5 linked regions of the Homo sapiens genome follow. The protein of the gene in region 5 interacts with the protein of the main gene of each other region in a pairwise test. Each region holds a gene or a part of one and is shown on either strand. Other genes may lie near its edges. The genes, in order: PCNT, CEP126, PIPOX, PRSS23 and ODF2L.

Evidence for each region.
Region 1: the proteins of ODF2L (region 5) and PCNT interact in a two-hybrid assay, tested with the Homo sapiens proteins (one large-scale study listed by BioGRID and IntAct).
Region 2: the proteins of ODF2L (region 5) and CEP126 interact in a two-hybrid assay, tested with the Homo sapiens proteins (one large-scale study listed by BioGRID and IntAct).
Region 3: the proteins of ODF2L (region 5) and PIPOX interact in a two-hybrid assay, tested with the Homo sapiens proteins (one large-scale study listed by IntAct).
Region 4: the proteins of ODF2L (region 5) and PRSS23 interact in a two-hybrid assay, tested with the Homo sapiens proteins (one large-scale study listed by BioGRID and IntAct).

The regions. Positions count from the first base shown.
Region 1 is NC_000021.9:46,441,336-46,447,375, reverse strand, and holds the end of PCNT (pericentrin), read right to left. Parts: intron 4,880-6,040; coding exon 4,803-4,879; intron 3,567-4,802; coding exon 3,428-3,566; intron 2,683-3,427; coding exon 2,555-2,682; intron 2,093-2,554; coding exon 2,049-2,092; 3' UTR 1,607-2,048; downstream 1-1,606. UniProt on the Homo sapiens protein: Integral component of the filamentous matrix of the centrosome involved in the initial establishment of organized microtubule arrays in both mitosis and meiosis. Plays a role, together with DISC1, in the microtubule network formation.
Region 2 is NC_000011.10:101,993,981-101,999,796, forward strand, and holds part of CEP126 (centrosomal protein of 126 kDa), read left to right. Parts: intron 1-3,618; coding exon 3,619-3,663; 3' UTR 3,664-5,816. UniProt on the Homo sapiens protein: Participates in cytokinesis. Necessary for microtubules and mitotic spindle organization. Involved in primary cilium formation.
Region 3 is NC_000017.11:29,044,801-29,050,840, reverse strand, and holds part of PIPOX (peroxisomal sarcosine oxidase), read right to left. Parts: intron 5,983-6,040; coding exon 5,834-5,982; intron 1-5,833. UniProt on the Homo sapiens protein: Metabolizes sarcosine and L-pipecolic acid.
Region 4 is NC_000011.10:86,797,622-86,804,258, reverse strand, and holds the start of PRSS23 (serine protease 23 precursor), read right to left. Parts: upstream 3,718-6,637; 5' UTR 3,608-3,717; intron 1-3,607.
Region 5 is NC_000001.11:86,348,831-86,353,863, reverse strand, and holds part of ODF2L (protein BCAP), read left to right. Parts: intron 1-879; coding exon 880-1,005; intron 1,006-1,655; coding exon of another isoform or gene 1,656-1,673; exon of another isoform or gene 1,674-3,763; intron 3,764-4,985; coding exon 4,986-5,033. UniProt on the Homo sapiens protein: Acts as a suppressor of ciliogenesis, specifically, the initiation of ciliogenesis.

The sequences.
Region 1 (6,040 bases), on a different chromosome or scaffold from region 5:
AGCAGTTGAGACTGCTGCCTGAGCCAACACCCAGGGATGGAGTTACTGCACTAACTGGTGCTATTGATCCCAATTTTTGAGGGAAACTGGGTGGCTCATACACAATGAAAACAGGAACATCCTTATCTGCAATCTAGTGTCTTCACTGGCACCTTTTGGTACCGAGGACTTTCGGCTCAGTGCAGCCTCCGCCTCCTGGGTTCAAGTGATCCTCCTGCCTCAGCCTCCCGAGTAGCTGGGATTACAGGGGCCTGCCACCACACCCGGCTAATTTTTGTATTTTTAGTAGAGACCGGGTTTTGCCATGTTGGTTAGGCTGGTCTCAAACTCCTGACCTTGTGATCTGGCCACCTCGACCTCCCAAAGTGCTGGGATTACAGGTGTGAGCCACCACACCCGGCTGACAGCTTCTTGGCTTCAAGCTAGAACAGGCTCCTCACATTCATGTCCCATTGTCTTTGATGAAACGAGGGCAGTTAACTGTAGAATAGCCCATGTTCATCTTTTTCCTCATGGTTTCATTTATTTTTCCTTCAATAAACTATAAGTTAGGGCTGGACACAGTGTCTTGAGCCTGTATTCCCAGCACTTTGGGAGGCCAAGGCAGGAGGATCACTTGAAGCTAGGGGTTCAAGACCAGTGTGGGCAACAGAGTGAAACTCCATCTCTACTTAAAAAAAAAAAAAAACAAAAAACAACTAGCTCAATGTGGCAGTGCGTGCCTGTACTCCCAGCTACTCGGGAGGCAGAGACAGTAGGATTGCTTGAGCCAGGAGCTTGAAACCAGGCCGGGAAACAAAGTGAAACCTTGTCTCTAAAAGAAATACGAAAATTAGTGCCAGGCGTGGTGGTGCGCACCTGTAGTCCCAACTACTCGGGAGGCTAAGCAGGCGGATCATTTGGGCTTGGTAGGTCAAGGCTGCAGTGAGTTGTGATTGTGCCACTGTACTCCAGCCTGGGTGACAGAGCGAGACCTTGTCTCTAAAAATAAAAAAATTATACCCATCTAGTACATTTTTGGATAAAGGGTCCTTGGCTAGGTATTACTGTCTAGTCTAAGCGAGTATGAGTGAAACATAAAAAAGCACAGCCAGCCGGGCGTGGTGGCTCACACCTGTAATCCCAACACTTTGGGAGGCCGAGGAGGATGGATCATTTGAGGTCAGGAATTCAAACCAGCCTGGCCAACATGGTGAAACTCTGTCTCTACTAAAAATACAAAAATTAGCTGGGCCTGGTGGTGGGCGCCTGTAATCCCAGCTACTCAGGAGGCTGAGGCAGGAGAGTTGCTTGAGCCCAGGAGGCGGCGGTTGCAGTGAGCCGAGATTGCACCATTGCACTCCAGCCTGGGTGACAGAGGGAGACTCCCATCTCAAAAACAAAAAGCATGGCCATGAGAGGTGGATACATAGTGGCAGCATCTTTAAAAAAATAAGAAACCAAGTAAGAGTAAACAACAGTCAAGTGGCTATTCAAGAATGCTCCGGGTTCCACTGAAAATTTTTGACTTACGAGTTTAACATAAACTCTCTGCTCAATTTTTTAGTCAGTGAGAAAGGCAAACTGATAAAATGGATAAAATGGAAAAAAAAAACAACACAAGGGCTATTCACAAACAAAACAGTGATTAAATTTTATTCCTTTTTGAGTTGTTTTGTTTTTATTTTTAAATGAAGTTTCCATCTGTACACGTTAAGAAAATAAACAAAACAACAGGAAGCCATTCTCTGTGTATCCTCCTTGGAGGCAGGAAGGATGGATCTGCCGATAGGCACACAACAGCACACAGCCAGGGCTCATGGGAGTGAGTGCCCGTCACCTCACGAAGGTCATGGGCCTAAAACATACGGAGGCTCCATAGAAAATGCTCCAGCTGGCTTTGCAGTCATGCATAAAGGTGAGGACACTTAATTCAAGGCATCTGGGGGCTGGTGTCACCGCACATGAAGAGTAGTGCCCATGCTGTCCCACGAGCTTCCTTGGGAAAAGGGAAAAACAAATCTTTTCCTCAAATAGAATTGTCGCAGGAAAGAGCCATGACATTTTATTCACTGTTTAATCATCGGGTGGCAGGATTTCTTTGAAGTAGAATCTGCATATAAATAAAAATGAGGCAGCAAATTGGTTACAAGGCTTCACAGATTTTTTGAAAAGAATTCCACAATTTTGAAACACTATCACTGAATTCATGTAAATTTTGGTAAAAATATGAATTATACAGTGGTTTAAATTATGATATTTAAGAAACACTGAACAAATTATATCCTGGTCGAAATATAATCTTTATGTTCGCTATCAATGTAAGAGAAAGGACAAAAAAGTCCAGACGGTGATTAAGTCAAACTGACCTCAGCACGTATCACTGAGTACACTGGCTTAGACTTCTGTGAGATTCTTCACTTGTAGCCTCTATTCTAATACTATTAGTGACACTGATTGTTCAGACTGAAACTTTGGTTACTAAGCTGAATACCAGCCATCTTTCAACAGACCCTACGTTTCCAGGGTACAGTGATAATCAGCTTAATAAATACTCGGCGAGGACTTGCATTACCTGGTAGTACCCCTCCCAATCTTTGCTGGATCACTTCTAAATGGTGAATATACTCTGTCAAGGAATGTTCTGGATCTTGAGAAGCAGTCAGGGATCTTTCTAATCTTGAATTTGGGGATGGAGTGGCTCTTCAAACAAATTACCACACCAAGAGAAGAAAAAAAAAAAAAAAAAGAGTTGAGTTTGACAGACGGAGCCATGGTGACTGAGTGCAGAAGAAAGGCACCAGCCCCGCCAACCAGACCCGTGGGGATGGGTGACTCTGGGGCCGTTTCCTTCAGATCCCTCATTACAAAAAGTGTCACAGAGTGCTTTAAAAGCTTCTGTGCAATGTTCCAGAGTTGAGTATATTACTTTGCTTGCTACATCTTCGACGATGTATCTATTACCCAACCTGGATTCTGCACCAGGTCTCACCTGCCTTTCCTGATCTTCCCAAACTGTTTGTCAGGGTGATACCTGCCCCACTCAGTCCTCACCTCAGCTGTCCTTCCTCCTAGCCTTCCGCCAGGCCCAGGGAGCACCAGGGGTATCCCTTTTCCCTCTCCACCCAGAGCTTCCAAGTATCTTCACGGCAGGGAACATGCCTTCTTCACCAAGGCACATCCCTCACAAAAGGAGCCCTCGGCCACCATTTACTCTTTCACTAAAGATGGCAGCACCGGGCTCTCGGGCACCAGAGACACCAGAAAAGCCAGGTCCTCCCCCAGAACAGGGCGGGACTTCTTGGCCCTCACGGACTCACGCTGGAGAGTTTCCTGCCTTGCCCTGGGCTGGGCCAAAGCCAGAACTAAAAATGCATTTCTCTGAGGCCCTATGTAGGCTGGAGGGAGAGCCCTGGCAGGAGACGGGGCCTGAAGGCATCACACTGACCTTCCCCCACTGTGTGGGGAGGCTGCTGCTGCCAGTCTGCGGCCTCTGGCAGGGTCCCTGGTGTGGCCAGAGGGTACATCCCGGGTTGGGGGGGACTCTCTGGTTCTGGGTGGAGACTGCGGCTGTCGTGCTCGGGGCCCTTCCCCAGAATTATTTAACAACCAAGGGATTAGGAAAATAAATGAATGCATTTTAGTAAAGGCCCATCTATCAACAGTTTAAACGTATAAGCTTTTAAGAGCCTGTATGGCAATTTTAAGACATTTTTAAAGTGCTCAAGGTACAATATCTTTTTAAAAGCTTTGGAAGAAACCTGAGCTTTGACTATCTGCATCTGCAGGGGTAGCCCGTCTCCGGGGGAGTGCGGGGCAGGGGGGTCTCAAGACCTGGGTGGGGGTCCTGCCTCTATCCGCTCTGAGGAGCTGGCTCAGGAGGGAGGGGCAGGAACCCTGGAGACCACCAGGTGTGACTCAGAGGGGCAAACTTTCCTGATGGCTTGAAGGCTGAATCAAAGCATTTTAATTTCAAGAAGCAACTATTAAAATGTGGAGTCAACACTGATACAGCTGCCAGGCGCAGTGCTCATGCCCACAGTCCCAGGTACTGGGGAGGCTGACACAGGAGGATGGCTTGAGCCCACGAGTTCAAGGCTGCAGTGAGCTGTGACTGTGCCATTGCACTCGAGCCTGGATGATAGAGCAAGCCCGTCTCTTAAAAAACAACAAAACAACAACAACAACTTGGTAAGGCACTTCCAGGAATGCCGAGTCATGGTGCCAGTCGGCGGTGGTTCAGGCAGCCTAAGCCCCACAGGCCCGGAGCCACACACCCACCCCGCGTTCTCTGTGCTGCGTGGGAGGGGCGTTCTCTGCACACAACGCCTGCCGCTCTGGGACAAGAGCCCCTGGAAATGCCCTGCTCTGGGGCTGGCTCCTTCAGCACTAGTGCAGCCAGCTGTGCTCTCTGCTGTAGGGGGCAATGGCTCGGCAGAGAACTCCCGAGACAAAGATGTGAGTGAGCCAGAAATAAGCATGATGCTCTACAAGGAAAGAGACGTGAAGTGAGTTTCAGTTGATTTAAGGAATAAAAAAAGACCATTTTGCTAAACACTATTAAATAATCAATATATTGAGCATCTCAGTGTTTCCCATCGCCGTACGCCCCTGTGACCTGTGTTCATAGCTAACATGAGCTCTGACCTCCCTACGCCGGGCGCGCCTTCCCTCTGGACGACTGCTCTGACGGAATTCACGGATTTTCTTACCGTGCTTTATTACGTCCCCATCAACACTGAAAAATGACCCAAAGTGAATGAAAAACAAGAGTAGAAAGAAAGGTTTGTGAGTCCAGCGGTCAACAGCAGCTGGAGTCCCACCTGGGCGAGGGGCTTTGCCTTGTGCCAGAGCTCCTTTCCGATCTACTTCTTGCCATTTCTTAACCAAAAAACGTAATCTACAAAAAAAAGAGACAAGACACACTTAAAAGTACGGCAAGACAGGAAGGGAAAGAGCAATGAAAACCCCACTGTGACCAAACAAGCAGAATGGGGGCCTCGCTGCCCATGGGGACCAGGACGCCAAGGTCGGCCAGTCTGTTGACTCGGGCCTGGCATGCCGGGTGCACACATCCAAAGTGCTCGCAGGGCTGCCGGCGGCGGCGACCTTCCCATGCCCAACCACCTGACAAAGCCTCACTGCGGCCCCACCGTGGACCATATGGTCCCCTAGACACCCACCATGGCCCAGCTCAGGACGACTCCAGTTCAAAGTCAGCCGGCCACACCAGTGACTAGGAAACACATGCCGCTCCCGCCTGGTGTGCAGGACCCTCCCATCTTCATCCTGTCACAGATGCCACTGGACAGGCTCAGAACACGGAGACCCCAGCCCTCGCAGGAGTCCGTCAGATGGTGAGCATGCAGAGTGCAGGTGACGAGGGCATGCAGGTCAGTGTGCAGGGCCCCAGACGCCCTGCTAGGATGGCCTTCGGAACAAGCATCATGCCTGTGGCTTCCCTCCTTTGAGGCATAGCAGACACTGCCGATTCCTCCATAAGACCTGTCAAGGCCCCTTGGTGGCAGCTACCCTAGGCAGTGCCCTCACAGGGACACAGAGACTGCTCCTTTCTGGGACACCACTGCCTTCAAAAGATCTCCCCTCCTCGACAGGAGGTAGGATCTGGGTCTGCTTACCTCCCCTATCTAGTGCCTAAAATGCTTCCTCCTGCAGGGTGTTCTCCCCATGAACACAGGATGGACAGATGGGTGGGTGGAAGGATGGACGGTGGAGGCCTACGGTCAGGGGAGCTCAGAGACGAGGAGACAAAGTGCCCCAGGACCAGAGAAGCTGAGAGTACAGCAACCCAGGAGGCCTCGCCTGCACCCCACTTTGGCCCAGCCTGCAGCCGCGATGACTGAACTGGCTCGGCACCTGGTCTCTGAAAGGAGCGGGATTCCTAGCTGCTCTCTGCTGCATCTGCTACTCCAGACAGGCCCGCGCGTGGCCTTGGGAAACACCTCTGTGGCATCAGGGAGCAGGCACAGCCGCACAGTGTTTAGGGGGAAAAACAGTTTTAGAAATTCAGCACGTTCTTTGTGGCACGAAACCCATTAAA
Region 2 (5,816 bases), on a different chromosome or scaffold from region 5:
CCCAGGACTTTGGGAGGCCGAGGCTGGCTGGTCACCTGAGGTCAGTAGTTCGAGACCAGCCTGGCCAACATGGTGAAACCCTGTCTCTACTAAAAATACAAAAAACTAGCCAGGCGTGGTGGTGTGCACCTGTAGTCCCAACTACTCAGGAGGCTGAGGCAGGAGAATCGCTTGAAACTGAGAGGCAAAGGTTGCAGTGAGCCAAGATTGCACCATTGCACTCCAGCCTGGGCAACAAGAGTGAAACTCTATCTCAAAAAGATTTTTTAAAAAGATTCTGGATGTTAGAACTTTGTCAGATGCATAGTTTGCAAATATTGTCTCCCATTCTGTAGGTTGTCTGTCTACTCTGTTGATAGTTTACTTTGCTGTGCAGAAGCTCTTTAGTTTAGCTAGGTTCCATTTGTCAATGTTTGCTTTTGTTGCAATTGCTTTTGATGTCTTCATCATGAAATCTTTACCAAGGCCTATGTCCAGGATGGTGTTTCCTAGGTTATCCTCCAGGGTTTTTATAGTTTTAGGTTTCATTTAAGTCTTTAATCCATCTTGAGTTGATGTTTTTGTGTATGGTATAAGGAAGGGGTCCAGCTTCAATCTTCTGCACATGGCTATCCAGTTATCCCAGCACAATTAATTGAATGGGGAATCCGTTCCCCATTGCTTGTTTCTGTCAACCTTGTTGAAGATCAGATGGTTATAGGAGTACAACATTATTTCTGGGCTATCTACAGAATATAAACATTTTTATATTCAGAGTATTTTCATCAGTCATGGGAGCAGAAACAGGTATTAGTGTACCAATCTTCAAATAACTTTAGATGTGTATCCTAATTGAAAAACTGCTAAGAAGTGTACATCGGTAAGTATCCATATCTTTTCTGTGTCTTGAGAGTTTTTTTTTTTTTTAATTATACTTTAAGTTCTGGGATACATGTGCAGAACATGCAGGTTTGTTACATAGGTATACATGTCCCGTGGTGGTTTGCTGCACCCATCAACCCATCATCTACATTAGGTATTTCCCCTAATGCTATCTCTCCCCTAGCCCTCCACCCCCGACAGGCCCTGGCGTGTGATGTTCCCCTCCCTGTGTCCATGTGTTCTCATTGTTCAACTCCCACTTACGAGTGAGAACATGCAGTGTTAAAACTAGACATTACTGAATCTTTTTTTTTATTTTTTGCCTTGGCACTGGGTTCTGGTAAAAATGATCTGGAACAGCACTTTTCAAACTTTAGTGTACTTTGTACCACCTACAGATCTTGGTAAATACATTTTCTAATGTAGTAGGTCTGGGATGAGACTAGGTAATACCAATGCTGCTAACTAACTTTGAAACACAAGTTAGTTCTATGTGAAGCACTAACTTCACATAGAAACATGAACATGGATACACATTGGAATCACATGGAGAGCTTTAAAAAATACTGATGCCTGGGTCATACCTGAGGGCAGCTTGGGCATTTAGATATTTTTAAGCTCTCTGAAGAATTCAAATGGGAAGCGAAGGATGAGAAACACTGGTCTAGAAACAGTGATGACAAACAAGAAAGTCACCTACCCTTCCTGGTCCCCTGTCCTTTGTCCATCTGGGAGTTCGTGGGGAAGGGGATCAAAGTGTAGCCTGCACTGATGAGGAAAGCCAGTGAAGTAGTCAGTCCAAGTACCCTCTCCCATTGACAGTACTGGACATACACTGACAAATTCTTCTTTTGCTGGACTTCTCTTAGTCACCAATCTATCAATAAAACAGCAGTACTACATAAATGTTGAATTAACTATTATAGTCAAGAAAGAGATTTATGAAATACTTTCATGTCTCTGACAAATTTTGCTTTGCTTCTCATTTGCATTGTATAAGTGGTCTTCCATTTCTTCTTCCGTTTATTAAATATTAAGTACCGTCTATGTGCCAGAAACTTTGCTACATTCTAAAAATACATCATGAGCACAAAATAGCCAACTTTGCTAAGGCTAGGATTCACATTTCTCAGTTAGAAATTTTGGCCACAAAAGAAGAAGGCAGAAGTGGTCAGAAGCCATTATTGTTAGAAGATCATCATGGTTAGTCAGTGATGGACAAATACAAAGGTGCCCAGCAGCTCACTCCTCTCCACTCTATAGCATCTTCATGACTACAGGCCCTGCTGACCAACAGCAGCCCTAGGCCGACCACCAGGCACTGGGCTGCAGACCTGAAGACAGTAGCTTCAGAAAAGCAGAGTCGTTCCACATTCGGCAGTTTCCATAGATTTCCCCAGCAAGCTCCCCCTTCATAGTTCCACTTCAGCAGCTTGGGCATGCTTGGATTATCAGATTTCCCTGCAAGCTTCAATTTGTTTACCCACACCAGTGCTTCAAACAGCCTGCTCAGTCATCCTTTCTCTGATCCTGACTGGCACGCCACAGTAGAGCAGGCTACATTTTTATCCCTTGCCCCATATACTCTGATCCTTCAATTTTCCTTTTCCAGACCCTCATTTTCCCAGCTCCTATATTTGGTAAAATGTAATTCCTGTGATAAGTACCTTAGTCCCATAATTCTTATAATGGCTTTGTTTTCCTGATGGATACGGTCTGATAGAGGAAACATAAAAATAAGCGGTCTCTTATAAATCAGTGTAAAAAGCACTAACTTCACAGGCATATGAACATATGGGAAATGAACAACATTCTGAGTTCTGAAAAAAGCTTCAGAGTTAGCCAAATGAATATTATTTCAGAGACTGAAAAGGAGAAAGGAACTTCCAAGGACTAAATGAAACAGATTCAGGATGAAGAGGGAGAGAAAAAACTGGAGAGGGAAGCAGGGGCTAATGTTCCCATAGGTTTCCTTCTGGCGTGCCTAACTATGTGGGTTCCAGGCCCTTTCATCATTAGTTCCGTCGGACATTGTTTTCACAAGCTCACCCCCAAGAACTCCCATTTCTGCTATACAACACTATAGAGTTTTATTGGTACCCAGAATTTATCTAGAAGAAAATTTTAAATAAAGAGCTTTAAATGCAGGTTCAAATAAATTAGAATTTATCATTTCACTTTGAACCCTGAATTTTTATTTATTTATTTATTTTTGAGACGGAGTCTTGCTCTGTCACCCAGGCTGGAGTACAGTGGAGCAATCTCAGCTTACTGCAACCTCCGCCTCCCAGGTTCAAGGGATTCTCCTGCCTCAGCCTCCCGAGCAGCTGGGATTACAGGCACGTGCCAGCACACACAGCTAATTTTTGTATTTTCAGTAGAGACAGGGTTTTACCATGTTGGCCAGGCAGGTCTCGAACTCCCGACTTCGTGATCCGCCTGCCTCGGCCTCCCAAAGTGCTGGGATTACAGGCGTTAGCCACTGTGCCCAGCCTGAAACCTGAATTTTTAATGATATTGTAAAACTGCACATTTTCAAAGTGGGAATTTTACCTTTTAGAGTAGAAAGGTACTGATGAACATAATGTAAGGGTTGAGGTAAATAATCTATAAAGTCCTCTGCAATCTTAAACTCATTACCTGGGAGAATGATGTCAGGATGTGTTGAATATGCCACTATTTGACATGTCAGCCTAGTTTGTAGCTGCAGTGTTTTGGCATGTGTTTGCATGCTTGTTTCTTCTTTCTGATTTCCAGGAGAAGAGAGAAGATAGAACCAGCAGCTGCAGAGACAAGAGATAATTCCAGCAGAATCCGTCTAAGAAGACCTTTCATGTACTTCCCTAGGACTAGATGCATACCGTTTTGTGAAAACCAGCCATAGGAAAACATGTGAGCAACAACCCCCATGAACATTTGTCCTAACTCAGATTTTGTGAGCAGTGAAGTTTAACAGAGCAGTGACATTTAACAAAGCAGTGAAGTTTAACAGAGTTCTGAGAATACCATGAAAGACATTATGCCTGCCTAAACAAAAAGCAGGACATAACCTAGCTCTGAATACATGCCACAAGGATGAAGCTTGTGAGTAGAGCAAACAAACGTTTTTCCAAAGAATTCACAGTGCTCCTTTGCAATTTATAGATTTCATGTTGAAATATATGTTAAATAAAATTTCTGTTTATTGAACCTCTTTATTAAACCTCTAACTTACTGATAAGATGTTTATGAAGTATGGCATATTTTGATTTTTTTAATTGTAATAAATATTCTTAAAGTTACCACATCCCACAAAATGGCCCTTGGTGGCAGCAATAGAGCAAAGGTTACCTTTTTGTATGGTGAAGGGAGGCCTTCCTATGGCTGTACAATTACATCGATTCTTCCAAATTTCATATTTCATACATGGCACTTTGGCATACCGAAAAAACATGAAATTTTTCATTAAAATGCCATGAATCAAGCCAGGGCCGTTGGCTTATGCCTGTAATCCCAGCACTTTGCAGGCCGAGGTAGACAGATGGCTTGAGCTCAGGAGTTCGTGACCAGCCTGGGCAACCCTGTCTCTACAAAAAATACAAAAATTAACCAGGCATGGTGGCATGCACCTGTAGTCCCAGCTACTTGGGGTGCTGAGGCGGGAGGATTACTTGAGCCCAGGAGGATTACTTCAACCTGGGAGGTTGAGGCTGCAGTGAGCTGTGTTTCGCCACTGCACACCAGCCTGGGTGACAGTGTGAGACCCAGCCTCAAAAAAAAAAAAAAAAAAGTGATGAATCAAAATTAGAAATTAAGAGTTTTAAGAAAACATGTGGCCTTTTATTAATAACACTACTAAATTTTGGTTCCTCCATAGAATTAGTTTTGAAACACTTGATGTAGTGAGAAATGCATTAACATGTTGAATGCCTACCATGTACCAAATTTTGTGCATATATTTTTTATTTAATCTGACCAGCCACCCAAACCATGGGTATTTTTGTCTCCACTTTAGAGATGAGAAACTGAGCCAAGGCCACATAGCTACCTACAGTGACAGAATCAAAATTCAAACTCAGGTTTATCTAGTTCCAAAACCCATGTTCTTTCTGCCACACCATGTTAGTAGAAATGGAAACTATTGGATGAAATGAGGAAAAACAGGAAAAGAATTCACTTTTTAAATGAAGAAATTAGTGAAAAAATTGACCTAATGAAGGAAACATTTGTGCTTTCCTATATTTTTAATTTTAAGAATAGGATTTCGGAAGGCGACAGAAAATTTAGTTCTTAGACATTTAAATAGAAAGTTGTGTGCCCCTATAGAAAATATTTGAGAATTTCTTATACTATCAAGAAAAAATTCTGTGAATTAAGATGTAATTTATAAAATAACATTTCAATGGGGGTAAACAGGCCAGAAGAGTGTGCCAAGTTGTTTGTGAATCATTCCAAGCACCTCAGATGAAAACTCACTTTTATTAAAAAAAAAAAAGACAAGGGTTTATATTCATATACACTAGTATATATGTACACAGCAGCATCCTGCATGCCAAAGTAGCTTCACCGTTAGTAATCCCTCACTTTAATACCTCTTAGGAACCAAAGAATGCCTCTACAAGCAAAAAGATAGTTGAAAATAGTTAAGATCCAAAGTCAGAATAGGCCAAAAAAAAAAAAAAAAAAAGCCTAAATAGTAAGCTGGTGAAACAAGATAAGATTTGCATTTTACTAGAACTTGCACATTATGATATTGTCCTTTTATGAAACTGTCATATGACCAGAATTCTTCTGTAATTCTGCCCATGACTCCTCCAGAATTTTAGTAGATACAGGGTGGGTTCATTAAGAGTGATAAAAGTGGGAAGACATAAAGAGCCTTTGTGAATTAAAGTGGAAGAGAATAACACTTTGCATGCTATAAACGTGAAAACTAACATTTTTGGCCAGACACAGTGGCTCATGCATGTAATTCT
Region 3 (6,040 bases), on a different chromosome or scaffold from region 5:
TTTTTTTTTTTTAATGGAGATGGGGTCTCACTCTATCACCCAGGCTGGGGTGCAGTGGCACGTTCACAGCTCACTGCAGCCGCAAGCGAGCTCCTCCTGCCTCAGCCCTCCAAGTTTCTAGGGCTACAGGCACATGCCACCACACTTGGCTAATTTTTTGTGTGTATAGAAATAGGGGTCTCGCTGTGTTGCAGAGGCCTATCTCAAACTCCTGGCCTCAAGCAATCCTCCTGCCTTGGCCTCCCAAATATTTGGGACTACAGACTACAGGCGTGAGCCACCACACTTGGCGAATTTTTTGTGTTTTGTAGACACAAGAGTCACACAGTATGTTGCCCAGGCCTATCTCAAACTCCCGGCCTCAAGCGATCCTTCTGTCTTGATCTCCCAAAGTGCTAGGATTATAAGATGAGCCACTGTGCCCGGCCCTAGTAAACTTCTTACTCAACAAATAAGTATGAAGTCACTCAGGTGTATTTCCTTGAGTCCTTTTTACCCAATGGGGTCCTGGCTGGGAGGGATTCTGGGACAGACCTGGCTTAAACCACACCTAAGCAGATGTAATGTGAAATCCCTGACCTGGAAATTCCAGAGCAGCATATTCTAATCTCTGCCTGCAATATACCAGCTTTGGCCTCTCATATACTCTGAGATTTCCTTTCCCTTTTTCCATTGTTTCTTCCTCCTTTCTTTCCTCCTTCTTTCCTTCTTTCCTTGAAATGACTCCTCTTACAGGGATGTACTATGTGGGAAAAATGAACTCATGCCAAGACAACGGGCATATCTGTTGAATTATGAAATGCTGAGTGATGTTCTAATTCCCAAGCCATCCTGTGGTGGATGAAGCGGGAGCTCCCCATCCCTGGGAGTAATCAGCGAGCTGATTCTGCCGGTGAATGTAATTGTGCCGATTGTAATCATTTTGCTCCAGCTCTCTGCCCCTGTGGCATTTCTTTCTTAGCCCAGATATTGATATAACAGTGGGAAATTTTCCATCTGAATGTGTGATGCCAGACCCTCCCCTAGTCCGAAGATGTGTTTGGGAAATTCTCATTTTCCGTGGATCACAGCTGAGCTATTTGGCCTGAGGGAAACCGTGCGCTGCTGGAGAAATGCCTTGGATTGGAGAGAGATTTTTGACCATTATGAGCAAATCGGAAATAAATGTAAAACACTGCCTGGAAATGCAAAGGCCTGTGATTATGGGAGATAGGTGAGAGGCTCCTATGGGAAATGCTTAGAGAATTGGAAACCAGTCAGTCAAAACCGGGATTGGAGAATGGGCCTTTTCCTCCCAGTATGAAGATGGATGGCTTCCATGGGCAGATTGAAAATCATTTAAGTGCTTATTTTCTTAATGGCTTTTTCTAGATACCAACAAATAGACTGCTCATTCTGCATCAATTTCTCACCCCTGTGTTCGTGGCCTCCCTGTCTTCTTTTTTTCTGCTTAGACCTGGGCTGTAAGTTTGGGAAGGAGAAGGGTGAGAGGAGACAAGGGCATCAGCAGGATAAAAAATGACCGGGAAATGAATGGTCAGGACTAGCTACAAAGAAGGACTGAAAGCCAGCACATGGGTTGCCAGGGAACCCTAGAAAAGAGTGCAGCTCCCACCTCCCAGAATGCCCATCAGCTGAGTCAAGAGCATTTAGTATGAACTATTCCTTCCTCCTGACCCTAGCTTGATCCAGCACTAGGAAGAGGTAATTGAAGATTCCTCCCGAGGGCCTTGTTGACTCTGCTATAGCCCGACTAATGCCTCAGATATGATGTAGGGAGTTGGTGATCAGGGATTTCCACCAGTTACTGTAGCAGGACAGGGTGTAGGATGGAGTGGGGAGGAATTGGGAGAGGAGACGGCTCTCCCTGCACCTGCCATCTCCCATCCCAAGCTTCAGCTCTCCCCTCTGTGGGTTAAAAATGCCCAGCAAGCCAGCTCTGAGTCACCTTGGGGAAGGGATTCGAATGGGGACTTGGTAATGGCTGCTGCCTTTGTTGGTTTTGGAGGAGCTCTAGGCATTTCATCTTCCGTTCAGTGGGCCGAGGTGGAATTGGTTAACAAAGACTGCTCCAGGGAGGGGATGTGGCTGACAAGCCAGACACTTCGCAGACACAAGAAACAGCAGCTGCAGAGGGGGCCACCAGGTTCTGCCAGCAGCTGTACTGCCTACGGCTGTGATCTTGTCTGATACTGTCAGCTAAGCAGGGGCAGCCCAGGTCAGGAGCTAGACAGTAGGACTCAAAGGGAGAAGGCGGGGCAGGAAAGAGATGGGCCAGGGAGCTGGGTTTTGCTGTTGGAATCAGCATCCTGGCTGTACACATCACAAAAGATTCAGACCTTGTGATCTGACACATGTGTCATTGTCTGTTCCCAGAATATATGCAAATGTCCCAAACCCACCCATGTTTAGTATGCCGCTGTCACAGGAAGCAGCTAAACAGAATGAAAAGCACTGGACAACCACCTGAACTGCCAACTCCTAAAGGTTTTTTTTTAATCATCATCAAATAGCATTAAGTATGCTCATATCTATCAGTAGTATTATGGTATTGTGCTGGTTCTTCTAGAAAAACCTGGGGAAAAGTAAGAACCACACAGATGATGAATCATTTAGAAAATAAGAATCAGTAAAAGCTAAAGGAATTAGAATGGCTTTTAGCCCAAAGGTAGTAGAGCTGTATTCAGATACCATTCTGAGAATGGGAAGTATCTGCTCTGTGTCCCTGCTAAGTAAAAGAACCAAATAAATTGGTGTGCCTGAGTACATTAGGTTAGCCATAAGAAAGGACTTATAATAATAGAATAATAACAATAGTAGTAAGAATACTTAGCACTCTAGAGGTTTTTAAAGCATATTCACATTACTTTTCATTTTTCGTAACTGGGGCTATGAGACATCAGAATGGTCTTTTAAGAAGGGCTGTGATATTTCCCTGTCTTTAAATGCATAGTAGCAGTCTTTTGACCTGGGATGATTTAGGCATGAACTTATTTGGAGACAGAAATGGACAAGTTAACCAGTTTGAGGTATCTTCCACACCCAGGGCCAGCAAGCTACCACTCAGGGACCAAATCTGGCCTTCTGCTTGTTTTGGTCTGGTCCATGAGCCAAGATGGTTTTTAAATTTTTTAATTGTTGATTTTTTTTAATCCAAAGAAGAATAATGTTGAGTGACACATGAAAATTATATGAAGTTCAAATTTCAGTGTCTATAAATAAAGTTGTATTAGAATACATCCAGGCTCATTTATTTACATCTTGCTTTCACACTACAATGGCAGAGTTGAATAATTGTAACAGAGACCACGTTGCCTGCAAAGGCTAAGATACTTACTACGTGGCCATTTATAGATAAAGCTGGCCAACCTCTATTCTAGACTTAAGAGTATAGTAATTCTGTGATTTGCATTAATGGGATAAGACCCTGACTACCCGGCAGCAACCCTCTCATAAGATTGTGAGGAGAATGGAATGAGTTATAGGTGTCAGGTACTTAGGCAACTCTTAGTTTTTTCTTTTCTTTTCTTTTCTTTTTTTTTCTTTGAGACGGAGTCTCACTCTGTCACCCAGGCTGGAGTGCAGTGCAGTGGCGTGATCTCGGCTCACTGCAACCTCTGCCTCCCAGGTTCAAGCGATTCTTCTGCCTCATCAGCCTCCCTAATAGCTGTGATTACAGGTGTCCACCACCATGCCTGGCTACTTTTTGTATTTTTAGTAGAGGCGGGGTTTCACCATGTTGGCCAGGCTGGTTTTTAACTCCTGACTTCAGGTGATCCACCTGCCTCAGCCTCCCAAAGTGCTGGGATTACAGGCGTGAGCCACCATGCCCAGCCTAGTTTCTTATTGTAAACACTACATATATGGTGAGGAGGAGGAGGAAGATGGTTTTCCAGGTGCTGTTCTAAGCCCATTACCTACTTATCCTCACCCCAGCACCATGACACAGGTATTAGTATCCCTACTTCACAGATGAAAAAAGCTGAGTCTCACCAGAGGTTCAACAGCTCGTTCCAAACCACACAGCTGAGCGTGTCAGAGCTGAGATTTAGAGCCAGGTCCAGTTCCAAAGCCCGTCCAAATTCCTGTCCTCCTGGCAAAGAGGAGGATTGTGCGCTTCTGAGAGTCTCCTACCCAAGGATCCCTCTCCCTCTTTCCTGCTGCCACTCCCCTTGGTATCTGTGGTTGTTGCACCCATCTGTCTCCTCCTGCCTTTCCTCCCACTGTTGCTCAATGGAACAGAATGCAGCTGACCCAGAATGGGTCAATAAGGGACTGCCCCTTATTGAAAGGTGCTAGACATTGGGCCAAGTATTTCACAAAAGTCTCATTTAATCCTCTCAGAGCCCTATCGTAAAAAGTGAGGCACAGAGAAGTCAAGAAACTTTTCCAAGATCACACAACTGGTGTGGAATAGAGCACAATGTCAAACCTAAGCCTGTCTCACTCCAGAATCGTCTCCCTCGGAAAGATTCCAGACACTCTAACGTCTCTTAGTTGCCTCATTGTGTGCTAGGAGGAAGTGTGCCCTCTGAGGCCCAGGGCGATTCTTTTAGCAAAAGATGCTCAGCAGTATTCACAGACAACTGACAGAGAGGGGTCCCTCTGCCGGGCCACCCACCAGCAAGACATGCTCCTTTATTTGGGTGCTGGGTGCATTAGCTGCCTCTGAATAAATCTGTAATTAGCTGCCCTGGCTGATTTGCATAATGGATTTCACTTTGTTCTTAAGTTAATGGTATTTTTGCAACAGAACACTAACCTCTTGGTTCCTGGCCATTAAAATAACCACCACCCTATCAGGTAGAGCCAGGGTTTGTAGGAAGTTCAGTTAAGAGTCACAGAGGAGGTGGGAGGGAGGTGGGATGGTTAAAGTTCCCATTGCATCACAGATTATTGGCTTTCTTTCCCATGAGTGTTTGAAAGGTCAAGGGTTGGAGAGAGCCATGAAGGCAGCAGAGAAAGACGTGGAGGCTCACTCCCTGGCAAGCAATCCAGCCTGGGGAACGTCCCCATTTTGTTCCTACAGGAAAAGGTACTCAGAGAGAACAAAATGGGTTTATAGGGCTGCTAAAGGGGGTGAGGACCCCTCAGGAAAAGTTAGGATGTTGATTTGACTATAAAGAATCCTGGGCCAGGCACGGTGGCTCACACCTGTAATCCCAGTACTTAGGGGGGCCGAGAAGGGCAGATCATGAGGTCGAGAGATCAAGACCATCCTGGCCAACATGGTGAAACCCTGTCTCTACTAAAAATACAAAAATTAGCTGGGTGTGGTGGTGCGCACCTGTAGTCCCAGCTGCCCGGGAGGCTGAAGCAGAAGAATCACTTGAACCCGGGAGGTGGAGGTTGCAGTGAGCCAAGATGGCGCCACTACACTCCAGCCTGACAAAAAAGCGAGACTCTGTCAAAAAAAAAAAAAAAAAAAAAAAAAAAAGAATCCTCCTGAAAGCAGCCTCCTCCTCTATCTCAACCCCTGCCCTAAAAGAGTTGCAGAGGCCTCCACAGAGTTGAAAATACACACTCCAGCAGACTCCTGTCCACTCTGGGCATCTGCCACACGGTGCCTTGCCAGCAGGCTTTCCAGTACTGCTTCTGCTAGCCTTGGACACATGGTCTGAACCCAGTCCTGCAACGCAGAGCCTGGCCAGAGTCAGCTGGACCTGTGGGGTGACCACCATGACAGCAGAACTCTTCCATGCATCTGGTACTTCTTGAGGCCTTGTGTCCCTCCCATTGCATTCCAAATGTTCCATGGCGCTGCCACTTCACACACTAAAAGTACCTGCAGGTGCAGAGCCCCACGATTCAAGGAATTCCTCCCACAGCCCACCTGTGCAATTGGGTTCCAGCCTCGTGCTCCAGCTGGGCCCATATCTGATAGCACTCATGCATCATCCGGGTGTAAAAGTCTTCCAGGTACGCCTTTCGGATTATCCGGCTTTGTCCATGGGAGCTTCCTCGGGAGTGTGGTAGAAAGAACTGGAAGTGGAAAACAAGAGAGATGATGGAAGCCATTACCCCTCACACTGCATCCCCT
Region 4 (6,637 bases), on a different chromosome or scaffold from region 5:
ATTAGAAGATACAGCTGTGGGTTCTCAAGCCCTTAAATGGGTTTAAACTGATGTCTGTATTAAAGCTACAAGCTTCTTAAGTTGCTTAGTCCTTTACCAAATGTTTATTTAGGGTGCTTTAGAAATTCTTCTGAATAGCATCCTCAACCAGATGATTGCTTTAGCTGGTCTTTTTAGCTCTGGTCTTTAGGTCCAGGATTCCCTAATATTATAATTTTCCAGAATCACGTAAGTCCAGGTCAGGGACGATGCTGACTATAGTGTCTGTACTATCATTTACTTCTCAGGACCATTGATTCATGGAATTATGGAGGGTGGAGGCAAAGGAGGGGGAAAGGAAAAGGAAAAGGAAAATGAATCATGCTAATTTCTCATCTATCTGGCAGACAAGATTTCCCTGATCAGTCTGCAACAGGACCACTGTTTGAGAGAATGATTTAACTCCTATAGCAAACAAGTGCTGGGAGGGAAAACCTAATCCTTAGGTCATATATTCTCTATTGTACAAATTGTGACTCCAGCAGAAGGCAGCTTTCAAGAACTGAGTGGAGGGATGGCTGTGTGTGTATGCTCTTAAGACAGGCCCCAAAGAAAAGCCTGAGGGGGAAACAACCCTCCTGTCCATTAAGGGTCTTTCCTGAGGCATTCGCAGCCTGCCCTGACTCATCCGCATTAATAAAACAACAAATGATGCAAAACTGTGATGCTTTAAAATTAGGTTGGTGGATTTACATTCATTTCTCAACTCACATGATAATGGAGTAATTCCTTAGAAGACAAATAATTATTGTTACCATCTGTATAAACCCTGGGTAAGCCTGTGCTATACCTGTTTAAGTTTACTTAAACATAAACACTCATCTAAGGTATAAACAGATGTAATGAAAACATTCATAATCCCACACCTGGAAAGGTAACTAATGAGTTACATGATTTTAAATTCTCTCTCACCCTTATAAATGAATCACCTTATCCTTGCAGAGCTGCCTGGAAGACTCACACCTTAAAAATGGAATGAAGATTTTCAAATCTCACCCTTTTACCTAAGTCTGGATGAAGAAAATTTAGGTCTATAACGTTTCATTTCTAGGAATAAACTTTTGCTGAATAAAGATTCCTGGTATACATAAATTATCTTTTAAGGTTTCCAACCAAGTGTTTCCGTGCATCATTTCACCTAACTGGCAGGGAAGAATGGAAAATGAAGGTAAGAAAATATTTTTTCACCATGCTTAGTAATACAGAAACTATTCCTTTTCCAGCTTTGGGTATCTGATTCATAAATAGGTTACACAGTCCACCCTCCATCACTCAATATGAGCCACTGTCTGAAAATATTTATACTTTTTGAGGATGCTGCCACTTCATAGGCCCTTGGTGGTGGGACTTTGCATAATTAACAGATATGCAAACAACAATCTCTTTGGAGACTGGATGCAGTGACTACTGTCTCCTGCACGGCACCTTAGTCTTGAAAACTGCAACAACACAGGTCTCCTCAAGAGGGCCACTGTTTGAGAGAATGATTTAACTCCTATAGCAAACAAGTGCTGGGAGGGAAAACCTAATCCTTAGGTCATGTATTCTCTATTGTACAAATTGTGAATTCCTGCAGCCGCTATAAACAGTAATGACAGAAAGAAACGGCAGGAAAGTTTGCAAAGATACAGGTTTTGGACACCATTTGGAGAGATGACAAAGGGTCTTCCATGGAATCAGTGGTCAGTGATATGGAACGGTGAAATCATGCTAAATCCTAAAGCAAATGCTTAAGAATGAACCAAGCTCTGTGAATACTCTGCAGTCGGGCTTGTTCTCGTTTTCCTGAATCACAGACCCTATTAAGGCAAAACAGACCTAATCACATAATCGTTTAAGAATTACAGTCTTGTACAGGAAACTACAAGGCACTTACAAGTCCAAGCAACCCTAAACACAATCTTGTGGTCAAATGAAGTTTAGCCTCTTCTCTATCGGATTTCAGGTAAACTAAATTGAGCCTGGGACAAACCTGGCAGAACAAGAACAGAGTGCAAAAAAACCTGCTAATATTGAGAACATGAGAAACAAATTCCCTGGAGTCTGTGGGAGTTAGGCATGAATAATGCCTGGTGGATGAAATCCTAAGGGATCTATGAGAAGAGTTACTGGGAGAACCTGAGACTATTAACCATTGCAGACTGGGGACAAAAATGTTCTCAGATGCATTAATGGACACTTATGCTACAACCAGAAAATGCATCCATGTTAACCATCCAGCTGAATAAGTCGTCAGTGTTACAAAAATGAGATCCATATTAGGCACCTTGGAAAAAGGCTTCCTTCCCAGTTCAGGCACAGGAAAGGACAAGTTACCGCTTGACTTTATTTAACTAGGAAAACTGCAAGTGAAACAACCTTTTCGTACGCAGATGGGGTGCAAACACTTTCACAAATAAACATAGTGGCTTCTGGGGGCATTTTCTAAGTTCCTTCTCCCCACTTCACCTCCAATCCACTCCTGACAGACTTCATGGTAGGCACGGTTATAAACCTGTCACAAATACTCGCATGCACAAGTAGGATCTTGAAACAACATGCAATAAATATCCTGATACTACTTTGACATAGGGCTTTTGACCACAGCTGACCTCATCTATAAATTCAATTCTTTCTCACATGACCATGTGATGAGGATTCTGGCACTGGCCTACCTGTTCCTAAGGAGTGCACAGGGAGCCCTCAAATTTAGTTTCAGGAGCTGAGAGAAGCAAGCCCTATTCCAATACCTACACTGAGCTGCTTAATTCTTACTGGTGTCACCCAGTGGGCAGTAAAACAAACAGGATTTTTATCAGCTGCTTTCTCCTGAGGTGCTGGAAAGCAAACCTAATTTGTATTCTGGAGAGGAGTGGTGGTGTTCCTTCATCTGAACAAGTCTTCTCCCGCTCCTTTTAAAACTTTAAAACTTTTATTTAAAAGTTAACTCGTGATGAATGCCTACAGGCAGAAGAACTATTTGCTTACAACAACTGTTGTTAGTTCAGACTGTAGTGTCTAGGGTTAGCACCCCCGGAACGCACACGGACAACCACTCCGGAGAAAAGATTCTATTTCCCAGCCTGTATTTGCTGCACTTTTGCACTTCTCTTGCTTGCTTAGGTGTGTTCACAATCACATGCCCAGGGTTAAAACTTAATATTCAGAACTTGATGGAATCCGGTATATGCAAAACTCAAGGAAAAGAAGTAGTGGTGGTGGTGTGTTGGGGGGGTGCATGGGGGTGTAGCCATCGCCCCCGCCGAAGGACAGCTTGCCGAGAGCCGGCTCTCTCTGCTTCCCAACCAACATCCTGCACCCAAGACAGCAGGATCTTCTTTCCCCATCCGTTTCATGGGTGACACTGCATGAATCCAAATGACCTGCAGCCCCCGCCGTCTCCCCAGAGCTCCTTCAGGCCCCCAGCCCGTGTCCTGGAACCCCGAGGACTGCCCTGGCGAAGTCCTGCGGTGCCTCCGGCAGCCCGCAGTTACCCTACCCCGCGCATACCCGGCCCTTTGTCCCGCTCCTCCCGGCGCCTCGCCTCTCCCGCGCCCGGGCGGATGCCCCAGTCGGTGCCCGCACTCACCCGCGCCGAGCAGCCCGCCCGGGCCGCGGCTCGCTGCGCCGCTCAGACAGGTGTGGGCGCCGGGAGAGAGCGCGCGGCTCCCATGCCTGCCCCGCCGCACAGCCGAGTGCGAGCAAGCTGGCGAGCAGCGCAGGCAGCTGGCGGGTCCGCCCCCCGCGCCACCCGAGGCCCGCCCGCCCCGCCTCCGGCCTCGGGGAAGCCGCGCGGACGCCGCCCGCCCCACTGCACATAAACCGTGCCCCCCTCCCCTCGCCGCTCGCCTGCGGCCGGAGCAGGGTGGAGCAGCCCAGAGGGCCTGAGGCCGAGCGTCCCTGCGCAGGTGGGCCCCGGTGGCGCGGCAGCAGTCGCCAGTCCGGGCCTCTCGGCGCCAGGCAGCACCGGCTCTGGCGGGCTCTCCTGCCCGGGACCCGCGCGCCGTCACCCTTTGAACACCGCGCATCCCCGGGTCTGGCGCGCGGCCTCCTGAGCGAGACTACGGCCTTCGCTGCTGGGAGCACGCTGCCAGCTCGCAAAAAGACCAGGTCCCCTACAAAAGGCGACCCCTCCCCCAACAGCCTAGAACTAGGGACGCGGGCCACACCTGGTGTATGGGGAGCCCTGGGCAAATTTGAAGAATTGGTTCAGAACCTGTGTGCGCCCCACCCCCACGTACACTTTTAGCGCCTTAAGGTGCTGACCGAACTCCTAGTTTCTCCGGTGCCTCCAAAGAACAGAAACCTGTATTCCCATGGCAGGGCCACCAATGCTTTGCATTTCCTTACAGCACTCAGTGCTGTGCGTGGGGCCCAAAGCACCGGGGGTGCTTGGCAGCTTCTGAGCGGCGGTGGCTGGGGAGCCCACTGGCCTCAGTTCTTCATCGGGGCACCAGCTGGTGGAGCCACCTCCTTGTCCAGTGGGCCTACTTCCCTGAATCACTCCAAGCGGTCGTTATCTTGGTGGTGGTGGTTGGGGGCCAGGGTAGGGGGGTGTGCGGGGAGTCCTCTCCTAACCAGGCTGGAGACCTTGCCATTTAAGGTCCTAGTGTTAGAGCCTTCCTATTTAGTATAGATTACTGTGTATTGAGCGTTTTCGGTCAAGAGCTTTACATATAGGCCATTGTGGTGAAGAAGGTGCAGAGATTACACTAATTTTTATAAGGAACAGGAGGTTTGGAGAGGTTTTATGACTTGCCCAAAATCACACAGCTACTGAATGGTAGGACAAGATTTTGCACTGAGCCATGCTTTCTATCAAGCTACTTAGCTTTCCTTTCTCCTATCAAAGTCTACTCTCAGAAAGGGAAGGTCTAAAGTGCTATTTCACACCAAGGTGTTACTGATATGCCTAATACGTTGGTGTTTGCAATTACTTTTACATGAGAAAGCCCTGAACACATTATTGTGTGGTCTTTTCTTTTATTTTATTTTCAAGACAAGTACTCCCTCTGTAGCTCATTCTGGAGTGCAGTAGCAGGATCATAGCTCACTGCAGCGTAGACCTCCTGGGCTCAAGTATCCTCCCTTCTCAGCAAGTATTACACGCGTGAGTCACTGCTCCCGGCCTGGTATTTCTTAAATAGAAAGGAAACTGATATTTTCCACCATTTTAAGGGCAAATTTTTCTTAGCTTAGCTTCAATTGTTTTCTTTTAAAATGTCACATTAATATATAGAGACATAGGCCAGGCTCAGTGGCTCACGCCTGTAATCGTAGCACTTTGGAAGACCAAAGTGGGCAGATTGCTTGAACTTAGGAGTTTGAGACCAGCCTGGGCAACATGGCAAAACCCCATCTCTATAAAAAATACAAAAAACCTAGCCAGTTGTGGTGGCACACGCCTGTGGTCTCAGCTATTTGGGAGGCTGAGGTGGGAGGATGGCTTGAGCCCAGGAGGTGGAGGTTGCAATGAGCTATGATCACCACTGCACTCCAACCTGGGTGACAGACCAAGACCCTGTCTCAAAACACACACAGACACAAAACCAGATATAAACTTATGTTACAGCTTTTGAACAACTCGCAAATAAAACCAAAACAGATTTATAAAAATTTTCTTCCAGAATAATAAAATTGAAATTAGTAACGTTTCCTGGACTACTATCAGCATTGCATGGTACTGACAGCTGAGGCGTCAGTACCTTTGACTTCCCTGTGGCTCTGCCACTCTCATGATGTGTGAGGTGCCCAATGCAGACTCAATTCTCTCACCTCTTTCCTTCGTTCCATCTACCATATCTCCTTTGCCCACACCATATGTCATTGCAATGGGTTTCTCTTGACTCTAATACATTATTTAGGTATTTGTGCTGTTTCTCTCTTATTAGCATAGCAAGTGAAGTGGTAACTCTTGCTGCCAAAGACTAGTACACACAGGTGCTGCAATCAAGAGGCAGTACTTGGCATGAGATGGTCATCCCAATGATCCAGAATGTGTTTATCTTTTATTATAAAAATTTTAAAGATTAAATTGAGGATCTCTAAGTGTCTGTAGCTCCCAATTGAAGAAACACCATTAAAAGGTAAGTATCTTAATAGAGGAACTGGAGGTGCAGCTGGAAGGAAGGGAAGAAGGGAGAGATTTATCAACCATGCTCAAGTTGTATTAGAGTCACTTCAATCCAACAAATATATATTGAGCACATATTACATGGAAAACATTGCGCTAGGCACAAAATTAAAGAGATGCATATAGGAGGACCATACAGCAACATAATTAAGAGTGGCCTGTGGCATCTGACTATGGGGTACCAATCCAAGGTCTGACGCTTACTAGTTGTGTGGCTTTTCACTTAACTTTTCTGTACCTCAGTTTCCTCCTCTGTAAAACCAGGACTTTCTCATAGAGTTCTTTTAAGAATTGAATGAATATACATAGTGTGCTTAGGAGAGTTTCTTACATGGAACAAGCCCTTAATAAATATTAGGTATTGTTATATTTATCACACTTGGCTCTGCTTCGGAGTGTAGTCCTCCAGTACCACCTCAGTCAGCTTTGACATTCATTGCTCATTTTTTTCCTAGTAGTTGCAATGTTTCAAGTTAGAGTCATGGA
Region 5 (5,033 bases):
GTGAGAGTGCCATCACTGCCCTGTTACCATTGCCCACACTGAGGGGACGGCGCCAAGGGCGTCAATGTTTGTCCTAAAGGCCCTTTCTCCCATAGCTTCAGCTCACACTGGCATCTCTCATGCATAATTGTGCTTGGAATATGTACAGAAGAAATCTTTATAATAACTTAGAACCGAGTTCATAGGAATTAGGTTGGAGGACAGTCCTTTCCACTAGCTCCTTGTTCCTGGATCAGTCCCTGCCTCTACTCTCATTCTTGTGGCTCCAACCCAGCATTCTTACAAATAGGCTTCCTTAGAAGGAAACATATCTGATTCCTTAGATGAACATAACTAAGCTAGACTTCCTGCTAAAATAAGTAACCAGAGAAATATGAAAATTCAAATTCAGACCAGTTTGGAAGTGAATGAATGAAGAACCAGTCTCTGTGTTTGTGTGTGTGTGTTTGTAGGAAGTGTGTATACCAATTCCTGCTCCCAATTCTATTAATCCAAGTGTATAATGAGTATTTAACAAGAAATTTCTATGTTCCATCACTGCTCTTAACACCCTGGTGAATATAAATGCTATAAAAATGGTAATTGGTCTCAGTCTGTTTTTAAAATATACTGTTGGAGAAAACACCTACCTAAGTCACGGAGCAGTGAAAATGTATACATCTCTTCCATCTCAAGCCAATTTTGCAGATATTTAGTGCTGCGAAGATAAGTATAGTATATACTTACGCTATATATGCTTCTTCAAGATAGAACATCTTTAAACTTGGATATAACATACAAGTAATATCTGTTTAGAAAAAAGGTACAATATAACTGTCAAGGCTTTAAATCATATTTTAAAGAAAGCACTTTATTTTACTCTTTTGATAAAAATTACAGGTTGCTGAAGAAATAGAGAAAATGTCATCTAGAGAGAGTGCTTTACAAATTAAAATATTAGATCTGGAAACTGAGCTTAGAAAGAAAAATGAAGAACAAAATCAACTTGTTTGCAAAATGAACAGTGTAAGTATTAGCATGGCTTAACATATTATAAAAGATAACATTTAACATTCTTACCATGTAGAAAATACAAAGTGAGTGAATCAAGTCTATTGTTTTACTGATAATATTAAAAATAACAAGCAATATAAGACATAACAAATAAAAATGTTATGATATGCCAAATAATTTATTATTCTGCCTCTTTGGATGGCATGTATTGCATTGCCATCAAATCTCATCAGGCACTTTCCCTACATATTACTTTTGCAATGACATCTGCTTAATGAAAATTACAGATATAATCTACTTGATTTCATCCTGATATGAATTTTTCATTTTTTAAAGATAAACACAGTGTAAACTATTATTACAAGTGAGTTTTATATCTGTCTTGAATAATGAATATTTTGTTTTAGAAAGTTATAATTTTGTAGTAAACATTCAGTATTGTTAGATATACATGTGAGATGGATGCTTTAGTCCACTCAGCCATGAAATGAAAATACCAAAGTGACTGTGCTTAATTAGTCTTCTGTTTTTTTTCCTGAATACTCATGAAACAGTCAATTGGCATAGAATATTCTGAAAGCTAGCATTACTCATGATTAAATTACGTAATAACTGTCTACTAGATAATGACATAGAGAATAATGATACTGTGTTTTTTCCAGGATCCAGAGACTCCATGAAATCTATTTTTTTAATTCCCAAGTGTCTAAAAAGTTGAAAACCTAAAAGATTCAAGAGTTAAATGATTTTTGGCATGCACAATTTGATTTTATTGCCATCAAAAGTTTCATGACAACTTAGTCAGAACAAAACGTCGATCACCTTTAATTTAGCACAGGCCTTCCATTTATTTCTAAACTTTTTTTTAACTCACCATTTGACTTTCTGATATTGTAAAATGTGTGTGCTGTTTTTTTGTGTAATTGAAGCCTCTGAAAAAATAAATGAGGTGGGTTTTGCTGTAATGTCCCTAGTACTTGGCTAAAGCTAGTAAAATAAATAGATCCCATTCACAATTGCCACAAAGAGAATAAAATACCTAGGAATCCAAATTACAAGGAATGTGAAGGACCTCTTCAAGGAGAACTACAAACCACTGCTTAAGGAAATAAGAGAGGACACAAACAAATGGAAAACATTCCATGCTTATGAATAAGATGAAACAAGATCATGAAAATGGCTATACTCCCCAAAGTAATTTATAGATTCAGTGCTATCCCCATCAAGCTACCATTGACTTTCTTCACAGAATTAGAAAAAACTACTTCAAATTTCATATGGAACCAAAAAAGAGCTCACATAACCAAGACAATCCTAAGCAAAAAGAACAAAGCTGTAGGCATCACGCTACCTGACTTCAAACTATACTACAAGGCTACAGTAACCAAAATAGCATGGTACTGGTGCCAAAACAGATATATAGACCAATGGAACAGAACAGAGGCCTCAGAAATAACTCCACACATCTACAACCATCTGCTGTTTGACATACCTGAGAAAAACAAGAAATGGGGAAAGGATTCCCTATTTAATAAATGGTGTTGGGAAAACTGGCTAGCCATATGCAGAAAACTGAAACTGGATCCCTTCCTTACACCTTATACAAAAATTAACTCAAGATGGATTAAAGACTTAAGTGTAAGACCTAAAACCATAAAAACCCTAGAGGAAAACCTAGGCAATACCATTCAGGACATAGGCATGGACGAATACTTCATGACTAAAACACCAAAAGTAATGGCAATAAAAGCCAAGATTGACAAATGGGATCTAATTAAACTAAAGAGCTTCTGCACAGCAAAAGAAACTATCATCAGAGTGAACAGGAACCGACAGAATGGGAGAAAATTTTTGCAATCTATCCATCTGACAAAGGGCCAATATCCAGAATCTACAAAGAACTTAAACAAATTTACAAGAAAAAAAACCCCATCAAAAAGTGTGCAAAGAATATGAACAGACACTTCTCAAGAGAAGACATTTAGTCAGCCAAAAAACATATGAAAAAAAGCTCATCACTGGTCATTCAGAGAAATGCAAATCAAAACTACAGTGAGATACCATGTCACACCAATTAGAATGGTGATCATTAAAAAGACAGGAAACAACAGATGCTGGAGAGGATGTGGAGAAATAGGATGCTTTTACACTGTTGGTGGGAGTGTAAATTAGTTCAACCACTGCGGAAGACAGTGTGGCGATTCCTCAAGGATCTAGAACCAGAAATACCATTTGACCCAGCAATCCCATTACTGGGTATATACCCAAAGGACTATAAATCATGCTGCTATAGAGACACATGCACACGTATATTTATTGTGGCACTATTCACAATAGCAAAGACTTGGAGCCAACCCAAATGCCCATCAATGATAGACTGAATAAAGAAAATGTGGCACATACACCATGGAATACTATGCAGCCATAAAAAAGGATGAGTTCATGTCCTTTGCAGGGACATGGATGAAGCTGGAAACCATCATTCTCAGCAAACTAACACAAGAACAGAAAACCAAACACCGCATGTTCTCACTCATAAGTGGGAGTTGAACAATGAGAATACATGGATACAGGGCAGGGAACATCACACACCAGGGCCTGTCAGGGCGTGGGGGGCTAGGGGAGGGATAACATTAGAAATTCCTAATGTAGATGACGGGTTGATGAGTGCAGCAAACCACCATGGCACGTGTATACCTATGTAACCAACCTGTACGTTCTGTACATGTATCCCAGAACTTAAAGTATAATAAAAATTAAAAAAAATAAAGATCTGATGTTTTGTTAAACCTGATAAGTTTTGTACTAGTAAAATTCTAGAATTCTAAGCATAGATTTAAACATTGCTGAAAAATGAGTTTGTGTGTTTTATGCCTTCCAGGGGACAGTTAAGTGGGCAGTATTTATTTAATATACCTGCTTCAGCCCCATTTGAATTGTAAGCACTCTGAAAGCATGTCTCATAGTCGTCTGTATCCCTGGTGTCTCCCACAGTGCCCTGCTTACCTGCAGGCCTTTTTGTATTTTCTGTCCAAGTACCCTAATAGGGTGGTGCAGAATGGATGTACAGATCTGTGGATGACCTCAGCAGCTTAATCCAAGGCACCCCTCGGGAAGCCTGAAATGTCTTTGAAGTCTTATGTATTATCCTAAAATCCATTGACATTTTATATTCTACCCTACAAAATAAGTATGTGTTACTATTTTTCTTTCCAAATTGTTGAGTAAAACTCATTGTATTCATCCTGTGACTTTGTACTGCCCAGCCTAGCTCATTGTTTTTTACCTGCCTCATTTCCTGAGCTGGGCATTGCTCAGTTTCAGAAGGTATCAGGTGTCATTGAACACCTGATATGAAGGATGTAAAAGTTCTCTCTTTTCTATCTAGGTGTCTATATTTTAATTGGAGGCTAGATGATATTTGCAACCTGTCTTTATCTAAAGCATTGTCAGTGAACTCACCTACTTAGGAATTCATATGCACCTTAGTTAAAAAAAATGTATTGTGGTTTTAAATTTTTTCCTCAACCAGTGTAATATGAAGAATTCTTTTTATTTTTTAAGAGATTCTAAGAAAATGTTCACATTATCAAAACTAGAATTCTATCAACTTTTAAGACATTTAATTATTTTGGAATAAAATGTGAATTTTTAGACAGAAAATGGCAAAAACTAGTATGAAAATATATCATGTTACATGTGAAATTATGACAGTTGTTAACCTATTAAGTTAATCATGTTAAATATGTAATAATTTGGGGCTAAATGAATGTATATTATAAATTATATCAGTGAAGATCAACCATGTGTGTGCTTTAATTATTAATTTTAAAGAGTGAGCTCTAAGAATGAACACATCAGATGTGAGTATTATTTTAAAAAATCAAAAAGAATTATCTAGTTATTGTATATATGTTTTTAATATTATGACTCTGGTCCTTTGGAATGAATGCTATTATTGCTTATCTGTATTTTTTTCCTTTTTTCTTTAGAAAGCACAACATCAGGAAGTGTGTTTGAAAGAAGTACAAAATAGTCTT